6 linked regions of the Homo sapiens genome follow. The protein of the gene in region 4 purifies or fractionates together with the protein of the main gene of each other region. This does not show direct contact. Each region holds a gene or a part of one and is shown on either strand. Other genes may lie near its edges. The genes, in order: PITPNM1, HMGN5, ESYT2, FGD1, MICALL2 and DAZAP1.

The links.
Region 1: the proteins of FGD1 (region 4) and PITPNM1 purify together in Homo sapiens (affinity purification with mass spectrometry; one large-scale study listed by BioGRID and IntAct). This does not show direct contact.
Region 2: the proteins of FGD1 (region 4) and HMGN5 purify together in Homo sapiens (affinity purification with mass spectrometry; one large-scale study listed by BioGRID and IntAct). This does not show direct contact.
Region 3: the proteins of FGD1 (region 4) and ESYT2 purify together in Homo sapiens (affinity purification with mass spectrometry, with the first as the bait; one large-scale study listed by BioGRID). This does not show direct contact.
Region 5: the proteins of FGD1 (region 4) and MICALL2 purify together in Homo sapiens (affinity purification with mass spectrometry; one large-scale study listed by BioGRID and IntAct). This does not show direct contact.
Region 6: the proteins of FGD1 (region 4) and DAZAP1 purify together in Homo sapiens (affinity purification with mass spectrometry; one large-scale study listed by BioGRID and IntAct). This does not show direct contact.

The regions. Positions count from the first base shown.
Region 1 is NC_000011.10:67,491,268-67,495,363, reverse strand, and holds the end of PITPNM1 (membrane-associated phosphatidylinositol transfer protein 1), read left to right. Parts: intron 1-138; coding exon 139-287; intron 288-407; coding exon 408-518; intron 519-1,003; coding exon 1,004-1,120; intron 1,121-1,293; coding exon 1,294-1,442; intron 1,443-1,526; coding exon 1,527-1,676; intron 1,677-1,770; coding exon 1,771-1,954; intron 1,955-2,301; coding exon 2,302-2,430; intron 2,431-3,067; coding exon 3,068-3,331; 3' UTR 3,332-3,596; downstream 3,597-4,096. UniProt on the Homo sapiens protein: Catalyzes the transfer of phosphatidylinositol (PI) between membranes. Binds PI, phosphatidylcholine (PC) and phosphatidic acid (PA) with the binding affinity order of PI > PA > PC. Regulates RHOA activity, and plays a role in cytoskeleton remodeling.
Region 2 is NC_000023.11:81,114,914-81,118,413, reverse strand, and holds part of HMGN5 (high mobility group nucleosome-binding domain-containing protein 5), read left to right. Parts: intron 1-2,072; coding exon 2,073-2,210; intron 2,211-3,183; coding exon 3,184-3,500. UniProt on the Homo sapiens protein: Preferentially binds to euchromatin and modulates cellular transcription by counteracting linker histone-mediated chromatin compaction.
Region 3 is NC_000007.14:158,819,510-158,823,009, forward strand, and holds part of ESYT2 (extended synaptotagmin-2), read right to left. Parts: intron 1-3,500. UniProt on the Homo sapiens protein: Tethers the endoplasmic reticulum to the cell membrane and promotes the formation of appositions between the endoplasmic reticulum and the cell membrane. Binds glycerophospholipids in a barrel-like domain and may play a role in cellular lipid transport.
Region 4 is NC_000023.11:54,454,735-54,458,234, forward strand, and holds part of FGD1 (FYVE, RhoGEF and PH domain-containing protein 1), read right to left. Parts: intron 1,834-3,500; coding exon 1,775-1,833; intron 1,633-1,774; coding exon 1,486-1,632; intron 1,051-1,485; coding exon 958-1,050; intron 794-957; coding exon 714-793; intron 1-713. UniProt on the Homo sapiens protein: Activates CDC42, a member of the Ras-like family of Rho- and Rac proteins, by exchanging bound GDP for free GTP. Plays a role in regulating the actin cytoskeleton and cell shape.
Region 5 is NC_000007.14:1,438,971-1,442,470, forward strand, and holds part of MICALL2 (MICAL-like protein 2), read right to left. Parts: coding exon 3,222-3,500; exon of another isoform or gene 2,193-3,221; coding exon of another isoform or gene 1,715-2,192; coding exon 1,621-1,714; intron 1,116-1,620; coding exon 955-1,115; intron 26-954; coding exon 1-25. UniProt on the Homo sapiens protein: Effector of small Rab GTPases which is involved in junctional complexes assembly through the regulation of cell adhesion molecules transport to the plasma membrane and actin cytoskeleton reorganization.
Region 6 is NC_000019.10:1,406,324-1,410,385, forward strand, and holds the start of DAZAP1 (DAZ-associated protein 1), read left to right. Parts: upstream 1-1,262; 5' UTR 1,263-1,450; coding exon 1,451-1,479; intron 1,480-1,561; exon of another isoform or gene 1,562-3,298; coding exon of another isoform or gene 3,299-3,756; intron 3,757-4,062. UniProt on the Homo sapiens protein: RNA-binding protein, which may be required during spermatogenesis.

The sequences.
Region 1 (4,096 bases), on a different chromosome or scaffold from region 4:
AAACCCTTTCCCCCAGCACACAGCCTGGACTTGGCAAAGAGCAGGCTGGGTGAAAAGGGGGGAGGGAAGAGCACCCAGCGCCCAGGCAGATGGGTGTGGGGCAGGAGGCCATCCTGACTCGCTGCCATGGCCGCGCAGTCCTGGAGCGCTGGTGGGGGACCAAGCGGATCGACTACTCGCTGTACTGCCCCGAGGCGCTCACCGCCTTTCCCACCGTCACGCTGCCCCACCTCTTCCACGCCAGCTACTGGGAGTCCGCCGACGTGGTGGCGTTCATCCTGCGCCAGGTGGGCCTGGGAATATGGAATGGGAGATGAGAATGGGACGGGGATGGGCTGCTTTGGGCCGGGGGAGGGGCAGCCCTCCCTCCCCTAAGAGACAGAGGCCTCGCCCCCTGTCCCGTGCAGGTGATCGAGAAGGAGCGGCCACAGCTGGCGGAATGCGAGGAGCCGTCCATCTACAGCCCGGCCTTCCCCAGGGAGAAGTGGCAGCGAAAACGCACGCAGGTCAAGATCCGGGTAGGTGCCCTGCCCCTCGCCCCCTCGCCCACTCGCCCACTCTCGCCCACTCACCAGAGAGGCCCCGCCCCTCCCCCCAGCACCCCCCTCCTCGGGTCCTAGCCGATCCAACTCTCTCCCAGTCCTGCCCCGCCCCTGGGGTCCTGGCCCCACCTCATTGCCCCAGCCCCGCCCCTGGGAACCGCTGGTCTCCCCGCCCTCTGCGGGAAGTTTGGGTCTAGGGTCTGGATCTGCGCTGGTCCCCACCTCGCCTCATCCTCTGCATCCCGTCCTGTCACAGCTCTGCCCCTGGAGGCGCGGCCCACACACAGGCTCTCAGGCCGGGGTCCACAAAAGTGCGCCCCCCGGGCTTGCCCTTTTCCCTCAATGCCCCGCCGCCTCTAGGCCCCCACCCCGGTGTTTGCGTGTGGATCCTCACCCGCTCCCCCTCCCCAAGCATCCCCATCCTTTGCTGGCCGCGGACTCACGCCCTCTCCTCCCTCTAGAACGTCACTTCCAACCACCGGGCGAGCGACACGGTGGTGTGCGAGGGCCGCCCCCAGGTGCTAAGCGGGCGCTTCATGTACGGGCCCCTGGACGTCGTCACGCTCACTGGAGAGAAGGTCAGGACCCAGAGGCCCTGTCGCCTGGTCCCATGGCCCCATCTCCTGTCCTCGGAACAGCTCCTGGTCCCTGGTGGTTGTGCCCCTAGACCCACCCATCCCCGACGACAGCCCCGCCTCTGCCCACCTCCACGCAGGGCCCCCATTTACCTCCCGCCCCTTCTCCCCTCCAGGTGGATGTCTACATCATGACGCAGCCGCTGTCGGGCAAGTGGATCCACTTTGGCACCGAAGTCACCAATAGCTCGGGCCGCCTCACCTTCCCAGTTCCCCCAGAACGCGCGCTGGGCATTGGTGTCTACCCCGTGCGCATGGTGGTCAGGTGAGCGCGGCTGGCCGGGCCTCTGCGGGAGGGCTCCGCCAGGCCTCGCCCCGCGCCACTCACGCCCCGCCCCGTGGGCCGCAGGGGCGACCACACCTATGCCGAATGCTGCCTGACTGTGGTGGCCCGCGGCACGGAGGCTGTGGTCTTCAGCATCGACGGCTCCTTCACCGCCAGCGTCTCCATCATGGGCAGCGACCCCAAGGTGCGAGCTGGCGCCGTGGACGTGGTCAGGTAGGAGTTGCCACTGCCACCACCACCCATTTCACCGGGGTGACCGGCCCCTCACCCCTGGCCAGCGGAGCTGACCGCTGCCCCCGCCCCACAGGCACTGGCAGGACTCCGGCTACCTGATCGTGTATGTCACAGGCCGGCCGGATATGCAGAAGCACCGCGTGGTGGCATGGCTGTCGCAGCACAACTTCCCCCACGGCGTCGTCTCCTTCTGCGACGGCCTCACCCACGACCCACTACGCCAGAAGGCAATGTTTCTGCAGAGCCTGGTGCAGGAGGTGCGGCGGCTGGGGGAGGCTCCGGGTCCTGACCCCGCCCCCGCTCCCCCTTACCCTCCACCCCCGGATCGGCGGAGGCCCATCTGTTCCCAACTGGATCGGCCCGGGCCCTGCCTGACTGCAGCGGCCCGCTACGGTCCTGCTCCCCTAGTTTGAGGGGCCCCGTGTACTTAGGGGCAACTAGGGAGATGCAGCTGGTCCCGCCCCTGTCCCCGTGGGACTGGGACCTGTCTTCGCCTCCGTCTGCCTGGACCCACCCCCAGAACAATCTGGGGAAGCCCAACAGGCCCCGCCCCCAGCTGCACGGCTCCACCCCTGGGGCGGCTGATTGGCATCTCCCGCCACAGGTAGAACTGAACATCGTGGCCGGTTATGGGTCTCCCAAAGATGTGGCTGTATACGCGGCGCTGGGGCTGTCCCCGAGCCAGACCTACATCGTGGGCCGTGCCGTGCGGAAGCTACAGGCGCAGTGCCAGGTGAGGCCCAAGTGAAGGCCAGGAACAGGACCCCACCAGGGGGCAGGGCCCTCAGTCCCAGGCCTTGGGAACCACGGACTCTGGGGAAGATGTGAGAAGGCCTAACCGGCCTCCAGGGAACCTGGGATCCTCCGAGGACAAGGGCCATGAGCAGCTTGAGCTGCCAGCTGCCAGGCAAGCCAGAGGGGACAGCCCACACTGGAAAGTGCTCAAGACCCTAGGCGCTGGTTCCACTCGGCCATGGCTTTCCACTGTGACCTTTCTGAGCCTCAGCTTCCCATCTGTAAATGGAAATGATCATGGCACTGCCCATGTCAGCTTATGAAGATCACATCAACAGGCACAGGGCTGGGCACAAAGCAAGTGCTGGCTAAACATTGGCTGCTGTTATTTTTCCTCTAAGACCCCATTTTCCAGATGAGGAGACTGAGGCCCAGAGAAGGGCAGAGCTAGGAGCACAGCCAAGGTGCCCTGGCTCCCAGCCTGGGGTCCTATCTATTGAGAAGGCTTCAGCTCAGGCTGTGCCAAGCCTGCCACCAGTCCCCCAGCCTGCCTCAGGTGCCTCTGGAGGACCGTGGAGGGCAGCGTGTGGGCCCTTGGCCAGCACCCCCTCATCGCTGCCTACCTCTGCCCACAGTTCCTGTCAGACGGCTATGTGGCCCACCTGGGCCAGCTGGAAGCGGGCTCGCACTCGCATGCCTCCTCGGGACCCCCGAGAGCTGCCTTGGGCAAGAGCAGCTATGGTGTGGCTGCCCCCGTGGACTTCCTGCGCAAACAGAGCCAGCTGCTTCGCTCGAGGGGCCCCAGCCAGGCGGAGCGTGAGGGCCCGGGAACACCACCCACCACCCTGGCACGGGGCAAAGCACGGAGCATCAGCCTGAAGCTGGACAGCGAGGAGTGAGGCCCACACCAGCCTGGACCTGGGTTATTTATTGACACACCCAAGGGGCCCGAGGGGCTGCGTGTGGGAGGCTGGGGACCCAGACTTTTGGCCCCAGCGCTGGCCCCCCCAGCCCCACACCCTATATCTCCGTGTGCTCCTCGGTGTTACTTCCCTTTCATATGAGGGGACCCAGCGCCGGGGGGAGGGAGGAGGGCGTGGGCATGGGCGCAGAGGCTTTTCCAGTGTGTATAAATCCATGAAAATAAACGCCACCTGCACCCCACCCACTCACCCCATGCCTGGCATCACAGGGCAGCCAGCCCAGTTTCCAGTTCAACAGGGGACACTGATGTGCACAGAGAGGCCAACACACACCCAGGGCCATCCAGCTCACAGGCAGGGTCAGGATGGGGGCCTGGGCCTCAAAAGGTCGCACGAAACCCACGCCCAGGGCCATCCATGTCACAGGCAGGTCAGGATGGGGGCCTGGGCCTCAAAAGGTCTCACGAAGCGCTCGGCCCTCTCCTCTTTCTGGACAGTCAGCCCACCCCAGCCCAACCCGGCTCACCTCAGCCCCAGCGTAGCTTCTCATGGAAACCCTGCCCCCAGACACCGAGGCCAGGAGACCATGGGATCCGAGGCTGGAGTGGGAGGGCAGCACCAGGAGACTACCTCCCTCAGGTGCCCAGCTACCTAGCTTGTACCCACTTCATCTCCCCCTTAAGACTGTGGGCTCCTGGGGCGCCCCAGCCCTGGCCAGCGAGAGACACTTCCTTGGTGAAA
Region 2 (3,500 bases), about 27 Mb from region 4:
ATATTGAAATAAATTTGCTTTTTTTTTCAAAAATAATTTTTGAAATGGCATACAGCTGATCATTTTACTTTGCTTATATTTTGTTCAGTTAGTAATATATTATATTCTATCATATGATACATGTAAACCCCTTGGGTGGGGATTATTTGTTCTGTTTTGTGATTGTCCACAGTGTTTTGACATTTTCACTGGGTAGAGACAAAACAATTTCAGTTGGATAGGCCCATTAAATGTACATGCCTTTGCTATCATATAGTGACAATACTGTTTCCCTGGGAAAACAAAAGGTGAAAACAGTAGTAACCCCAAAGTTGTGCTTTGTAATAAAAGTAGTAACTAACATTTGATAATATTTTACAGTTGGCAAAGTATATAAGATTATATATAATTATATATATAATATATGTAAGATGTATTTGCATATGTTAATTTTAAATGGACACAATTGATTTTGTATGGACTTATATACTCTGGTGTTATGGCTAAAGGCATGTAGAAATAGATATAATCTCAATATTTAGTTTACTGCTAATTGCTTAATACATAAGAATATTGATTGAATTCCTGAAATCATAAAAGGTTAAAGCTATGAGAAACATTAGAGAGCATCTAATCCTATCACTTTGTAGTTGAAGAAAGTATAAACTGTCATTATGTTCATAAATGAAATCCTTTATTAAAAAATATTGCTAAACTTAGGGAAATTGAAGTTTTAGTAATAATTGATATATTTAATGGTGACAAAAGAAAAGAAGGTTTTTTTTTCTGCATTTTACTTTTCAAGTCCACTATTATATAAGGTTAAATATTCAACTTACTAGTTTTTAAAACAGTAAATACAGCATATTTTCTTTTAAAAAGAAAAGTAAGGCCAGACGTGGTGGCTTACACCTGTAATCTGAGTACTCTGGAAGGTTGAGATGGGCAGATTGCTTGAACGTAGGAGTTTGAGACCAGCCTGGGCAACATAGAAAATCACCATCACCACAGAAAATACAAAAATTAGCCGGGCATGCCTGTAGTCCCAGCTGCTTGGGAGGCTGTTGTGGGAGGATTGCTTGAGCCTGGGAGGAGGAGGTTGCAGTGAGCAGAGATTGCCTCACTCCAGCCTGGGCGACAGAGGGAGTCCCTGTCTCAAAAAAAAAAAAAAAAACGGAAAAAAAAGAAAAGAAAAGAAAAATAGGGCTAGACTAAAACATATACTATATAACCATAGACTTTACCCTCCTTGGCTCTGTTTCTCATGTGTTAAAAGAGTAATAACTTATATCTAAATTACAAATTACAGTTTCTAAAGCATTTTTTTCATGTGTTTTCTCATTTTCTCCTTGTAACATCCCCGTGAGGTGGGTGGTATTACTCTCTTTTTATATATGAAAATAACAGCCTCAAAGATACTTATGCCTTTGCTCAAGATCACATCACATAAGTGGCAGATCTAGAATTCAAACACAGGTTTTCCGGCCCCTCAATCCAGTGGTCTTTCTATTACATACACAGGTAGGCAAAAATTTTCTTGGTGAAGTCGTCATGAATCAGGGCATTCCAAACTTGTAGATACAAAGATTGAAACACTTACATCACCATAAGGTCTTTTAAAAATATATCTAAATTGTTGTTCTCACTAACAGCATTTCTCTTAATTATTACCAATGGAGGCGTAACGATCAACAAAACCCTGTTCCTTATTAATTAGACTTGACAGAAATAAACTGACCCTCTCTAGACAGAGGGAATTAATTGATCAGTCTAACCTGATGCCAGCAGTTTGTCCTTGGCAGCAACTAGTCAGCATTCTAACTGGTTGCCTCTCATCTATATCACTCAACTTAAAAGGAAATTTATTTTGTTTATATCAAGGGAACATTGTTCATTTTTAATCCTGCTTTAGGCTTACAATGAAATTTACAATGAAGATATTATATGATAATTTTGTTGATACCAGATTTATATGTGATACTTTAAAGAGTTTGCATAAATTATTACAACAGCTGGTAAAATAATTGTGACCATTTAATCAACACAGCAGTTAAATTGTATATTTACTTTCATTGTTTTATATTGCTTGGCAGAAAATGAAGACAAAAAGTGATATGATGGAAGAAAACATAGATACAAGTGCCCAAGCAGTTGCTGAAACCAAGCAAGAAGCAGTTGTTGAAGAAGACTACAATGAAAATGCTAAAAATGGAGAAGCCAAAATTACAGAGGTATTTTCTAATGTTAACAGTTTTATCTATTTGAAAGTTTAACAATGGGTACAACTGAAAGAAATCCTATTTGCCTTTTAGTTTATAAGTTGGAAAAAAATTAAGTGAGCAGTGGTTCTATAGTATAATGGTATCTAAGAGGAAAATAAAATTAACTTAAAATATGAGAATTTAGAGGGACCAGTAGTGCGAGCAGTGGCTTAGCATTGCTGTTACTAGAACAATGCCAATGATTATGACTTAGTACTAACATAACAACCTTCTTATTAAATACAAGCCAATCTTTATTCCTTTTATCAGCACACAGGCTATTTGTAAATCCCTTTTCCAGAATTTATGATTCTTTTATTTCCTCTGTGGATGGCAAAGCAAATCATTATATAAATGTTTTTAATCTTATTTTGCATATTTAATGCATACAACATTTTTAGGTATTGTAATAAAACACTGAAAATGGGTGTAGCCACCAAATCTATAAACCAAACATATGCAAATATGGAAAATCTTTTGTAAGTTATCTTATAATATCTGGTACAGTACTTTTCAAGTAATTTTTACATAAAAAATATCATTATTATAGAAACAAAATATGTTATTTTCCAAGGACTATATTTTGTTTACATGCATAGTCCTCATTAAGAATTGCTGATACAGAATAAATATATGTCATCCTTTAAGTATTTACTTTGTGCTTCTTCATATTTGAAATAAAAAGTATTTATAAGTGTTTCTGTATTTATTGTTTCAAATATCTATTTGTAGATATTTCCGTGGACATATTTTAGTTAATCTCATTTCTTAGAATGTTTTCTCATAATGTGATATTTAGCAGGCTTCTTTCACAGGAAAATTACTTTCTTTAAATGAAGTATTAGTCTTTCTGTGAAATAGATATAATCCAGTGTAAATATTTAGGGGAAATGGTTCTAAATTTACAGACAGAATCTTGTTTTTCTTTTCACTATACTTACAGGCACCAGCTTCTGAAAAAGAAATTGTGGAAGTAAAAGAAGAAAATATTGAAGATGCCACAGAAAAGGGAGGAGAAAAGAAAGAAGCAGTGGCAGCAGAAGTAAAAAATGAAGAAGAAGATCAGAAAGAAGATGAAGAAGATCAAAACGAAGAGAAAGGGGAAGCTGGAAAAGAAGACAAAGATGAAAAAGGGGAAGAAGATGGAAAAGAGGATAAAAATGGAAATGAGAAAGGAGAAGATGCAAAAGAGAAAGAAGATGGAAAAAAAGGTGAAGACGGAAAAGGAAATGGAGAAGATGGAAAAGAGAAAGGAGAAGA
Region 3 (3,500 bases), on a different chromosome or scaffold from region 4:
AGAATAACATACTATCCATAATATAGCATTTAAGAAAGGAGGATACTATACACACCCATATATCCAAACATATCATTAAAACATTAACAAAATCCACGGAAATGTTGCCAATGTAATGTTATCACTAGTTAGTAGAATTGCAGGTAACGTTTTTCTTCTTTATTCTCCTCCAAAGCTTATTCTTCAATGAGCATACTTTCTTCTTTAAATCAGAAAAAAATGTTTTTGAAACCTGTCTAGCCATAACATAAGAAATGAAGAAAAATACAACTACATGTTCATTAAATATAGAAAGATAAAGGGGGACTTCACCGTGTAACTGAACAAATTAAAAAAAAGAAACTCAGTTTCAATGACAATTTTACAAGTAATAAAGAAAGCATAATGAAAACCATCATATTAGTATTTCCACATCTGCTGTTGGTGTGGTTATCACTAATTCCAGCACGCAATCACCAAGCACAAAACTGAAGCTGTTATCCGAAAGGACACTGCTGCTGCAATACACAAGTGCACGTGGGATGTGCTTCTTACTTTGTACTGATACTTTCATCTAGACACTGCCGTAATCCATTAAACCCCATTCAATTTATACTTTACTAGCAACTACCATTATGGATGGTTTGGTATTATGGATGATCTTTTAAATATATTTTTTCTTGGATTTTAAAAAAGTGAACATGTATTATTTTTACTAAAAGAATGGGGGAGAGTCTAGAGAGATATTAACAAATGGATAAAACATTTCAATTACAAGGAATGAGTTCAAGAGATCTATTGTACAACACTGTAACTATAGTTAGCAACAATATAATATATTCTTGAAAAAGTCACTAAGAGTAGATTTTCTAGTGTTCCACCACAAAAAATGGTAAGCCCGTGACATAATGCATTTGTTAATTAGCTTGATTTAGCACATTCTACAATGTATACATATTTCAAAACATGTTGAACACAATAAAAATAATACTTTTATCAGATAAAAAAATAACAACAGCCAGGTGCAGTGGCTCACGCCTGTATTCCCTCCCAGATCTTTGGGAAGTAGAGGCAGGAGGATCGCTTGAGCCCAGGAGTTCAAGACCAGCCTGGGTAAGAAACCTCCCTTCTACAAAAAATTTTAAAAATTAGTGAGACGTGGTGGCGCATGCCTGTAGCCCAAGCTACTGGGGAGGCTGAGGCGGGAGGGGTGACTGAGCCCAGTAGGTTGAGGCTGCAGTGAGCCATGATTGTGCCACTGCACTCCAGTCTGGGCAACAGAGCAAAACCTTGTGTCAAAAAATAAATAAATAAAAATAATTGAAAAAAACCCACCAATTCATACTATGACTAATGCTAGGATTAAACAGATTTGCTGTGTTATTGCCGGCTGGTAAATTTCTGAGTTTAAGGCCTTGTCTTACACACATTTTGTGTCACTAGCACCTAACACAGTACCTAGAACATAGCAAATGCCTAATAAATGTCCATAAATTCATCAAGACTCATTTTTAATGCTTACATATAAATTGGACTAGTTTCTTAAAATGCGATCCAGGAAAAAATTCACAAAAATAAATAGTTTGCTTTAACAAACATTATAGAACTTTAAAAACAGTTAAGAAAAATAAATGAAGAAAAGAAATTAGTGACAGGAAGAAAGACTCTGGAAAAACCTCCATAAATAAAACATGCTTTATGGAAAAAATGATCCCATGCAAAAGACAACTACTAACATATTCACCATCTGTGTAAGAACTATGCCCCACCCAATTCCAAAAGAACAGGAGGTGACTCAGTGTTCAAGGAACAATAAGATCATTGAGAGTAAAAGAAGATCGCCTATTTGAAGAAAAGTGTGATGGGTACTCCCGGCTATTACAGTAGTACAGGGCCCAACAATCCAGCAATAATTTTGGCTGTGAGTTTTCTGGTAGCTACAGCAAGAATAGAAGTATACTGCATTACACAGTAGCTTTCCTTTTCTGATTTCACAAGCTTAGATCTGAACACATCACTACTTTCACCCCCATCATGTCCAAACTCTGTCTTAAAAGCACGACAGTAATCCCAGCCACGTCCCTGCATCCTGTAAATCAGAACTGCCCTGAGGGCCTGGGCCAGCCATCCAGAAGGAGCACTTCTACTCCTCCCAGGTCATGGGGACCTGGGCTGGGGTCTAGTGGGACCACTTCCTTTCCTCACTGCTGGGCCCAGAGTAAGTCCCAAGCTGAGTGCAGCCTTCTACCAGGTGGAGGAGTTACAACCCTATCAGAACTTCCATGCATTTCCCTCCAGATGAGACGGCCCAGAAATCTGCCTTTGCAACTGTCCTCCACACGGCCGCTCGCGCTGTTGCCACTGAACGTAAGGCCATGCCCTTCAATAAGAGTAGAATCTCTTCCCTAGCATGTCCGTAAATTTATAACACGCCCCCTTAGTTACCATCAAACCCTCCCTGCTCCTTTCTTCTGAGCCACCGTGACACTGGAGCCATCACCACAGCCCGCCTCCCAGGTGCTTCTTCTAACTACTCTGAGCAGAGTGTAAATATGAAGACAGGATGATTTCTTACACTTGTGTTGGCACAATCATCTGCATAGAGTGGGTCCTTACATCTCTAAATGAAGAAATAAAATTCCTCTGAGACAGAATCGTCATGAAAACTAAAAAAGATAATGACTTGCCAAACCATAACAAAATGCAAGAGACGACAAAAGACCACAATGTATTCTATAATACATGATAAAATTATGTTCTGATAGAATGTACCCAGTATGAAACAAACCAATCCATAAGCTAAACTACTCAAACATATGTGATGATTATATACTGATACCTTGAATCACAGTTAAGACTTTGGAATAACTCACGGAAAAACAGATTTCGGTTTTTTATATTTTTGAAGCATGATTTCTATTGCTATGCAATTAAAATTAATATTTGTTTAAGCCAATATAGTATAGCATCCGTGTTTAAGGGACTATTAGAGGCCCGAGGTGGTGGCTCACACCTGTAATCAGAGCACTTCAGAAGTGCTGAGATAGGAGGATCACTTGAGCCCAGGAGTTTGAGACCAGCCTGGGCAACATAGCAAGACCTCGGCTCTACTACAAGTATAAAAAATGTTCAAATATATAAAATTAAAAAATAAATAAAAATAAAGTAATATTAGAGCTGGGTACAATGATTCACACCTGTAGTCCCAGCCACTCAGGAGGCTGAGGCAGGAGGATCCCTCAAGCCTAGGAGTTCGAGGCCAGCCTGGGGTAACACAGTGAGACTCCAGCTCAAAAAATAAAGTACTATTAGGTTTAAGTTAAAAATATTTACCTAGTTTTTAAAATTCATATACCTAACCCTTTCATTAACTCTCCTTTAAAATGTAAATACCCCCAAACTTAAGTTAGAACAATATTCCTTAAAAACTTTTACAGTTTTAGCTAGAATTCCGTAAGCAAAGGTGTACCTCACTTTGCACTATAACTGACCACCTTTTCATCCATTATTAAAAGAAATTC
Region 4 (3,500 bases):
AAAATGTTTTATACAGTGCATGACTGTATATGTGTATGTATGTATATGTGTGCAAATGTGTATGTATGGTTACATATGTATTTTTTGGGTGCTGAACCATTTTAAAGTAATTAACAGACATTGTGACACTAAGCCCTCAGCATGCACTGCTGCAAAACAAGGCCATTCTCCTGCATAACCACCATAACATTATCACACCTAAGACAGCAATAATTTCTCAATATCTAATGTTCACTTTACATCCACATTTTCTCTTATTGTCCCACAAATGTCTTTTAGGGCTCTTTTTCCCAAACCAGGCTTCTGTCATGGACCAAGTACTGCATTTGATTGTTATTTCTCTTAGATCTGTGAATCTACAATAAACTATTTGTGGTGGTATTATTCATGTTGGGTTTCACATCCCATTCTTCTCTCTCCTCTAACAAAATCCACCAGAAGAAATTCTTGGTTTAATTAGGGAGAGCTTATTCATTTTCCAAAAGGTTTCCCTGGCAGGAGTGCCACCTTTCCCCATATCGTGAAGTACTCACCCTGAATCTAAATGGTGTCTAACCCTTAGGGATCACCCCCACCGCTGAAGAGCAAGCCTGCATCTTTGGGGAAAGGTGCCCATCCTTTCTCTGGAACAATCTCTGGGCCTGGAATGCCTCAGCATATCTGAACAAAAGGGAGGTAGGCGCTGGAGGAAAGGCATAGGCAAGGATAAGTACCTGGCCTGGAGCTCGAGGGAGCGCTGCTTTCCTGACACCAGGAAGGTTCGAGGCAGATTGAGGTTGGAGCTCTCCTTTAGCTGAATGGAGGCAGAAAGGGGCATGGTGAGGCCACTGAACTCCACAGGGCCCTAGCCCTCTGCACACATACACACACAGACTCGGGGTCAAAGCCAGCATCTTTGTTCCTCCCAACACCAATGCCCCACTCCAAGTTCCCATTTCCCACCTCTTGGATGCTTACCTCCATGCCATCTACATCAATGCGTGCCCGCACGCTAAACTTCTGGCCAAGGAGCCGCAGCCTGGGCACGCAGTAAAGGAGGCGGTCGTTGAACTAGGAAGGAAAAAGTTTGGGATGTATGTGCAGAGGGCCTAGTGGGGATGTGGCCCAGCTCCTTGCCCTGAAGCTTTACTGCCAAGGACTGTAGGCAATAGATGGAGAAAAGACAGCCCAAATTGGGCACAGGGGTCACAAGGAAAGAGCCTAGGCATGGAAGACACTTCCTAGTGGGGAACCTCGGGCAAGTCACTTCTCTGCAAGGCTTATTTGCCTCATCTGTAAAGTGGAGAAAAAAAATCCTAGCTAGGTAGTGAAAATACAATTCGTTACTAGAGGAGAGAATGACTAGCAGGAGGTATAGTCTGTTTTTCTTTTTTTTCCTCTTTCAGGAATGAAAGGAGGTATAGTCTTTGAGTGAGTACCAGGTCACTATGTGTGTGTGTGTTGGGAGGGGCATGACCCACCCACAATTCCATGCCTGGCACTTACTAGTATGAGGTATCGGTCTTGAGTGGTCCCATTCTTTGCTGACAGCTTAAGGATGTGGCCTTCTTTTATGAGCTCTTTGGTGGGGCTGACAATGTCCTCCTCGCCCCCTAACAGCTCATATACCTTCAGCAGCTTATGCATTCGCTCCTGGCAAAAGACAGGGAACAAAAGGCACGGTTGGGGTGCCAGCCTCCTGTCAGATGCCCACAAGTCACGACACCCCCACTCCAGGATGGAGACACCACAGGTGGGTGGCCAAGGAAGGGCAGGGGCTAGAAGGGCCACTCACCATTTTGCGGATGGCAGCATTCGAGTGCTCTGCTGCTGTGGCGATCAGCTCCAGAGACTCTACAGGCATAGAGGGGTGAGGTCAGATGGGGGACTAGCAGAGAGGAGCCTTTCCGGGGCTTTGTTTTTTGTTTTTTTTTTTTGAGACGGAGTCTCACTCTGTTGCCCAGGCTGGAGTGCAGCGGCATGATCACGGCTCACCACAACCTCTGCCTCCCGGGTTCAAGCGATTCTCCTGCCTCAGCCTCCCAAGTAGCTGGGACTACAGGCACGTGCCACCATGCCTGGCTAATTTTTGTATTTTTAGTAGAGACGGGGCTTCACTATGTTGGCCAGGCTGGTCTCGAACTCCTGACCTTGTGAACCACCCACCTCAGCCTCCCAAAGTGCTGGGATTACAGGCGTGAGCCACCGCACCCGGCCTCGGGGCTTCTTTCCTCCCTGAATACCTCCTCCTGGCCTGATCACACCCTCCCATCTCAGAAAGCTCCACCCTCAAAGATGTCCACAGCAACATCATTTAAAATCAGAAGTTGTCCAATGTCACAATGCCAGAATCACAATAGATGGAGTAGTTGGCAGCCAATAAAAAAATGCAAGCTTGCCAAGATTATTATTACCATTAATAATAACAATAATAGTTACATATGTAACCAGAAGGAAGCATACCCATGTTGTCTCTGGTTGGTGGGGCCGTGGGTGGTTTTTATTGTCTTCTTTAGGTTTTTCTGTATTTTCCGTATTTTTGACAAAGAACATGTATTACTTTTATAATCAGAAAAAGCCATATAAAGAAACAATGAGATGATCCTGTTCTTTGTCTCAATGATTCTGATTCTGGGTATCTATTCTAGGAAAATACACATTCTATACACAAACACATTTTTGTCATATTGGTATTTACAACAGTTCCAAGTGGGAAACAAAAATGTCCATCTGTAGGGGAGCACACCTTCACCTGTACCTCTTCCCTGCCAAAAAAAATGGCCAACTGTAGGGGTTCAGTTAAATACATTATGGTGTCTTCATATAATGGAACATTAAACAACCTTTACAAATGATCCTCATGTAGGTCTTTTAATAATCTGGGAAATGCTCAGGGTGTTTTAAGAAAAGGATACAAACATGTTTATATAGAATGATCTTACTTTTACAAGTATACATGTCTAAAAAACACCAGGAAGAATTTATGTCACAATGTTCATTGTGCTTATTCTCTGGGGGCTCAGATAACAGGGGATTTTTTTCCTACTTCTTTCATCTTTTTCTGTAATTTCCATATTTCCTATAGTGACCAGGTATCATCAAAAAAAAAAAAAGAAAAAGCTGAAATGAGTCCCTGTACATCTCCACACACTAATAAATCCCACCCATGCTTAAGGCCTGGCCACAGTCTTTGTGTACCCCATTCTGTATGTGCTGGATCTCCCCACTCAGATCAGCCTGTGCTAGAGGAGCAGAGGTGCTTCTGAAGGAGGTCCATATGGCTGGCCAACCAAGTCGTGTTTTCCTAAGAGGCTCTCTCTTCATGACCAAGTTTTGGTGCTCACGGAGATCTATGGCCCCTGTCCCAGCTCAGGCATCCACATGCCTTTCAGGGGCCGGGCTCCAATCTCCAACCCTTATTCCATCCTAGCTGCCAGAAGGAGCTTTCTCACACAGTTTACTGTCACTCCTCTGCTCAAATCTGTCAATGGCTCCCCTGTGCCTGCAGGGTAAAGACCTAG
Region 5 (3,500 bases), on a different chromosome or scaffold from region 4:
CGGCGGGGTGGGGAGGGGGACCTGGCTGCCCCCAGGTGGGGAGACAGAGCCACGCTTCAGAGCAGGGCCACTGGGAGCCTGGGGTCTGTCCCAGCACAGCCAACAGCTCGCTGGGTAGCCCGGCCATCCCCATGCCCTGGGCCTCCCGACTGGCACAGGGTTGGCATCACAAGCCCTACACCCACGTCCTGCCCAACCTGGCCATGTCTCCCCAGGGGGCTAACCCACGGGGCTGCTGGCTGCTCAAGGTCACACAGGAAGTGGCACGAGAGCTGGATATGGATCCAGGGCAGCTATGAGTGCTAGGAATACACACAGAGATGTGTGTGCACACACACGCATCACACACGAACACGGGTGCACACGTGGACACACATGCATCACATTCATGAAACAGATCCACACATGGGTACATGCACCACATACATGAACACGGTTGCACACACATGCATCACACAGATGTACACATGGACACACATGCATCGCACATGAACACAGATGTACACATGGACACATGCATCACGTGTGGGCACACATGCATCACATACACGAACACAGACACATGGACACGCATCACACATGTACACATGCATCACACGCATGAACACTGATGTACACATGAATACACATGCATCACACATCACATACATGAACAGACACATGGACATGCATCACGTGCACATGCATCACACACATGAACACAGATGTACACATGCGCACACATGCATCACGCATGGATACAGGCATCACATACATGAACACATGCACACATGCATCACACACATGCACACATGTACACACAAGCCTGCCCAGGACTACCAGCTTCTCTGGCTGACCGGAGCGCCTCTCCGCACACCCCAGGAGGTGGCACTACAGGTCCAGTCCCGGGGCCCCCACCCAAGGGGGAGGGCCAGCTAGGCAACCCGGGGGCCCCTGGGTCCCGTCCAGGAGTACCTGGGAGGCTGGGTCCTGGGCTGGCTGGGCGTGGGGTCCTGTCAGGCCTCACGGGGGTCAGGGTGATGTGGACACTCCCAGCAAAGCTGCCTGAGACCTTCCTGGGGGCCTCCCCCGCCCTCGGCTCTGCCAGGGCCCGTGGTTCCTTGGGCTTCAGAGTCCTGGGCAGAAGGCATGAGGTCGGAACCCGAACCACCAGCCCCAGGGCCTGGCCCACCTGGAGGGGCTCCCAGGCCATATGCAGACCAGCCGGAGGGAGCAGGTGGCCTTCTGAGCAAATGCCACCTCCCAGCCCACTGACTACACCTGCTGGGACCCTCCTGCAAACACACGTGTCCATCGCTACCTGCCGTGGTGCGAAGCAGATTCCAGGCGTGAGCTCCGGGCCCCACGGGACCCACACATGGGGAGACTCCACCCCAGCTGCAGGCATGGTGCGTGAACCCACACGGGTGCTGCCATGCCCAGGTGAGACACGCAACGCTGCCCCCAAACCAGGGACAGCGGCCCCCATGTCCCTCAGGCAGGGGTGACCTGGCCTCTGCTACTCACAGGGAGGTGCGTCTATCCCTGGATAGGCGTGTCAATCGGTCGATTACATACTCACTGCATTTATTAAGCACCTATGGTGTACCAGGCCCTGGGCCAGCCCCACCCATCCCTAACCTCTCAGCTGGGCTTCTCCTGTCCACGGGCTTCAGATTCGCTCTCCATCCTGCCGGCCCGTCCTCCTGGCCTTCCTGGAGGCTGGTGCTCATGTCTGGGTGGGAGGCAAGGGGTCTGGGTGTGAGGAAGGAGTGCTGGGAATGGGGTGTCTGCAAGGGTGGCTGTGCCTCCCCCTGCCATCTTCCCATAGCCACTCCACCCTCAGACACCCCCACAGCCAGCCGGCCGGGGGGCATCAGGAGCACCGGGCAGGGAGTCAGGGGAGGGGCTCCCAGCTGGCTCTCCTGTGCTGTGTGTCCCTGGGGGAAGCTCTCCCTGCCTCTGGGCCTCAACTTCCCCTTCTGCCGAATGGGTGGGGACGTGGCAGGGTGAGCCCCGTGGACCCTGATCCTCTGTCCACCTGTGCAAGGGGAACACCTGAGCCACGGCTGCCCGTCTGCAGGCTTTCTTGGCTCCTGGGTCCTGCAGGATCCAGCGCGTGGCTTTAACAATGAGAACTCAGCCAAAGAGAAGGATCTGGAAAAACCCTTTGCAGCCCAGCTTGTTCCCTGAGCCCAGCTCGATAAAGCCATGGGAACCTCTAGCTTTTTTCTACACACACCCAGGTGGCAGGGACAGCCAGTTTCCTGCAGTGGGGCGAGGCGGGGGGACTCGGCTGCCCCCAGGTTGGGAGACAGAGCCGTGCATCAAAGCAGGGCCGCCAGGAGCCTGGGGTCTGTCCTGGCACAGCTGACAGCTCACTGCGTAGCCTGGCCATCCCAGTGCCCTGGGCCTCCCAGCTGGCACAGGGTTGGCCTCACAAGCCCTAAGCCCACGTCCTGCCCAGCCTGGCCATGATCACCCAGGGGGCTAACCCCTGGTGGGTGACAGCCAGTTGCCTAGAAGAAAGCTCGCTCCCTGTTCCCGAAAACACGTGAGGCCATAAAACAGGACTGTGTGGTCCAGGGAGCCCCCAGGAAGAGCTCCCAGCCTAGGAGGCACCAGAGCCCTCAGGTCATAGGGCATCGTCACCAGACCACCACCGGGGGGGACGGAGCACAGGGCGCTCTCACCTGGACACCACCAGGGGGACAGGGCATACTGGGACACCAGCGGAGGGGACGGGGCATAGGGCACCGTCACCGGGACACCACAGGGGGGACGGGGCATAGGGCACCATCTCCGGTATGTGGTGACACAGGGTGCCACAGCAACAGCGCGACGTTGTCAAAGCGACAGGCAGGAAGCGCAAAACACCACGGGAGAACAGGAGGCCCCACAGACCACGGCCAAGCCAGGCCACTGCTAGCCACAGGATGTAACTGCCAGACCGAGCTGAGCGGGACGCTGCAGGGCTGGGCTGCAGGCACCTGCAGGACGTGCGGATGGGGTGGGCTGGGTGCCGGCAAACAGCATAGCCCTGAGGACATTTGCAGCCACCACACAGAGAGCGCACCAGGACCCCAGGAGGCTGCGAGCAGGTGTCACGGAGGACAGAGATGAGACGGAGAGGAAGGCGGGCGGGGCTGATGATGAAACCGCACACACTGCAGAGTGCGGCCAGGGGAGAGTCCCAGAGCTGCGGGCCCCCGGGGCCTCCTGCCTCCCAGCCCCTTACTCACCCTGCGTTAAGGTGGTGCTTTTACCCTTTGCCATCGGGGCCTCTGGCTTCGGCCTGGAGCCAGCACCCACCCTGCCGACCCCTGAGGATTCCGCCAAGTTCCTCCTGCCTGCCGGGGGCAACGCGGATGCCTGAGAGGTACTGCTCGTGCTCAGCGGGGCTGGCGGTTCCATCCTCGAAGGGAGGCCAAGCACCCGGGGAGACGAGGACTGTAACGGCTTGGCTAAGGGACTTGCTTGTGGTGCTTCAGTTTTGGGCTGAGAACTGGGAACAGCGGCAG
Region 6 (4,062 bases), on a different chromosome or scaffold from region 4:
ATTTCTCCGGCCTTAGCTTCCCGAGTAGCTGGGATTACAGGCGCCCACCACCACGCCCGGCTAATTTTCTTTTGTATTTTTAGTAGAGACGGGGTTTCACTATATATGTTGGCTAGGCTGGTCTCGATCTCCTGACCTAAATTGATCCTCGGCCTCCCAAAGTGTTGGGATTATAGGCGTGCGCCACCTCACCCGGCCTTGTTCCTTGTATTTATTTAATTCTGTGATGATGAATAAACCAAACGATCAGGCTGTCAATGTGCTGTGAGATTAAGGAGAAAAGCAGTAGGCAGCACGTACCCGGTTTTACAAAACCCTGCGGGTCACCTGTTTACTACCGTCAGCCTAGACCGGTTTTTCCACCTCCTTCTGCTGACATTGGAGGACGGGTATCATTCTTTTTGGGGGGTCGTCGTGTGCACTGCAGGGTGCTGAGCGGCATGTCTGGTCTGGACCCACTCGATGCCAGCAGCACCCCGCACTCAAGTTGTGACAACCAAAACCGTGTTTTCAGACATTGCCAAGTTATCCCCTAGGGGGCAAAGTCACCCAGAAGAAGAACCACTGATGTATGCAATTAACAGATGCAACTAAAACAGTATTTGGCTATTAATAGTAATAGCACTTGGGGGGGGGGTCAATAATATCTTTTCATAGTCATTGAATTTAGTTAATTGTTTTGATTTGATTCCAGTTCAGCCCCGAACTGGGTGACCTTGGCCAAGTGACTCAGCCTCTCGGACCCTCGGGATCCTCTTCTGTGAAATGCGGACAGGGGAAGGAGCCTCGCGCGGGACGCTCACGTGCCGTTCCCGCTCCGTCCGCCCGCCTGGGGTGCGGGCGGGTACACTCCCACTCCCCGCAGCGCCCCACGCGGCTCCACCGCTTCCGAGTGAAGAGTTAAAGAGGAAGCGGCAGCCGCGCCTGCGCCCACAGTGCCTAGCCCGGAGCGCCGGTCTCGCAAGCGCGCACGCGCACGCAAGCCCGCACGCGCGCGCACGCACGCACGTGGCTCGGCCCGCGCGCATCCTCCCCTTGCAGGGGCGGGGCCAGCGCAGGGACTCCATTTCCCAGCGTGCCCCGCGGCAACGCCAGGAGCCTCCGAGGAGAAAGGAAAACGCGCGACGGCCCCGACTGCGGCGGCGCGAAATCCGCCTCAGGGACGCACGCACAGACGGAGTACCCCTGGACCCGCCCCCGGAGACCCCGTGCGGGAGCGCGCCCGGGCGTGCGCAGGGGCGGCGGCGCGGCGGCGCGGGGACGCGCGGTGACCGTTGGCGCCGAGGGGAGGAGGCAGCCGCCGCCGCCGCCGCCGCCGCCGCCGCCGCCGCCGCCGCCGTTGCGCAGATCCGGGCCGCGGCTGTGGGGAGGGCGACGGAGCGGGTGACCTTCCGGAGGCGGGAGCGAGCGAGGAGGCCCGGGAGCGCCGAGCGTCGCCGCCGCCGCCGCCATGAACAACTCGGGCGCCGACGAGATCGGGTGAGGACGAGCGGCGCGGGCCTGCGTCTCCGCCCCGAGCCCGGCCCGCCGCTCCCCGCCGCCCGGCCTCAGACGCCGCCCCCCGGGGCCGCCCCGTCAAGGTCACGCCGGCCGGGGGCGGACTCGGGACCCGGACTCGCCGCGGCTTCGCGCCGGGGGCCCTGGACGGGTGCCCGGGGTCTGGGGGGGTCCTGGCGCCCCCGCCGCCGCTTCCCGGCTTCCCGTCCTGGGGGATCCTGAAGGAGAGCCTGAGGGGTCCGGGGGGCCCCGCCGCCGCCTCCAGACTTCCTGGTCGGGGGAACCCCGAACGGCAACCTGGGGGGGTGTCCTGGGGCGCCCGTGCCGCCGCTTCCCGACTGCGCGTCCTGAGGGACCCCGAATGGGAGCCAGAGGGGTTCAGGGGCCCCCGCCGCCGCTTCCTGGTTGTGGCGGCCCCGAACGGGAACTTGGGGGGGTCTGGAGCGTCCCCGTTGCCGCCTGTAGGGCTTCCTGGCCTGGGGGACCCCGAATGAGAACCTGAGGGAGTCTGCGGGGAGTCCAGGGCGCCGTCGCCGCCGCCTCCCGGCTTCCTGGCCAGGGGGACCCCAAACTGTGGCGTGGGGGGTGGTCCGGGGCGCCCCCAGCGCGCGCCCAAACTTGGCGGGCGGCGCACGTGGCGAGCCGAGGCGAGGGTTCCGGTTCTGCCACCGCCCAACCTATCCCACTCGGGGCTCCGGGCTCCCCGCTCCCATCCCACCCCCCCAAAGTGGTAAGGTCGGGAGGGGTTCGCAAACCCAGGGCCCAGGGGGCTCGGGTCAGCCGGGGCCTGCTGTGTTTACGTTGCCTCGGCGCCTCCCCGCCGGGGGTGGGCTTGAGCTGCGGAAGGGAGAGTCAGCGCTTCCGAGGCGGCGACGGGCCCGCGGATCTTTGCTGCGCCGAGGCGTCCCCTCCTATAGGAGCCTGACCTGCTCCGGACCCCGCGGGGCCGGGAAACCTCATTTCGCTGTGCCCCAGGGCTCGGCGCCATTCTTTGGTAGGAGCGGCTCCTGCCGCAGCGACGTCGTTTTAGAGTTGCATTCTTCCGGCAAAACAGTCTGGGTTGGGTTTCCTAGTGGTCTGGTGTAAATTTCTCGGTGCCCTTAGCTTTGAGCAGCGCCCTGTGTTCTCAGCGCTGGGCTTGGCTAGTGCGGGAGCGGTTGCTGCTAGAGGGTTGCCTTGGCAGGCGCCTCTCGCACCAGCTACAGGTCACACTTGTGGATGGGAAATGCCTTTTGTGGGCTCTCCCCCTCCCCAGACAAAACAAAAGAGCACCTTCCGTTGGAGAACCAGGATGAAAGCACTTAGCCCCTGCCTAGCCCGTGCTGTGAGTCCTCTCCAGGCACTTTGACTTGGCAGGGTCCGTGTGCCTGTGTGAGGGACATTGCAGGGATGGGCCTGAGCAGGGAGTCCACCGGCCATGGGGGATGGAGCCATCGACTTTGGGGTGAGGCAGGGAAAGGGCTCCCAGATGGGGTACCTGGATTAGGTCCATTCAAGCCGCGGGTGAACGTGGGCCCGCTCCACCCAAGCCGTGGCTGTGAGGAGGCTGGAGAGAGGTGAGGGCTCCTGTCCCCTCCCTGCATGGACACCCTTGGGAAGTGGGGCAGCTGGGGTCCCAGCCTGGGTCTGGAGGGGTCCCACCCACAGCACAAATAGGCTCGCAGGCCACCCGGACGCCACGGGCTGCGTGGAGGAGAACTGGAGTGCATGGACCCTGCTCTCCTCCCCGGCTGCCAGGAGTGTCCACTGCTTTCTAAGTCAGACTCCTTGGGCAAGAAGTGTTGCCACAGCCGCCCGTCGCATGGGAGACCGGCTTCCATTCTATGCGGAGTCCACGGTCTGCTCTGATCTTGCTGTGTGGAGTTGTTGTGTGCGTGAAATGCTTGTGACCCTGCGAAGCGCCCTCCTGGCAAGTCCCCTGCAGGTGCGGTGGGTGCCATGCAGGAGGGTGCTGAGCTTGGATGGAAGCAGGCCCTCTCTGCGGCAGATGGCGGCTCTCAGGACGCCATGGGTCTGCGGTGTCCCTTACCCACTGGGGGGGCTCGGCAGCCTGAGGAGCTCCCTCTTCCTGATGCAGAGCCCTCACTGCTCACTGCCATGGAGGAGGCAGGAGATCCCGCCGGACCCCGCTTGGAGGGCTGGGCCTGGAGCATGCATGGGTGCGGGGTCAACGCCTCAGGAGACTTGGAGCTTGGGAGCCCCCTGTTCTGGGACACTTGTGGCCGTCCAGCTGCTGCCCTGGGAATCCACACCTGGAAGGTGGGTTAGGGAGCCATCCTTGGGGGAAGCTCTGCTTTTGAGTCTGAGAAGTCGTCCCAAGTTTTGAGGGTCCCTGTGCTGGCTTAGAAGTCCATGTAAAGCTTGATGGGGGATGAAAGTCAGCTGAGGCCTGCCGGTGATAACGGATGCCTTACACACACCGACTTCCAGTCAGCTTGAGGGGGGCTTCATGCAGGAGGAAGCGCATACGTGTGGTGGGGTGTGGGGAGTCCCTCTCTGGATCCTGGTGGGTTTGGCACGCGGACCCTACATGGTGGATGTGATGGACAGTGTCCTCCTTTGGGA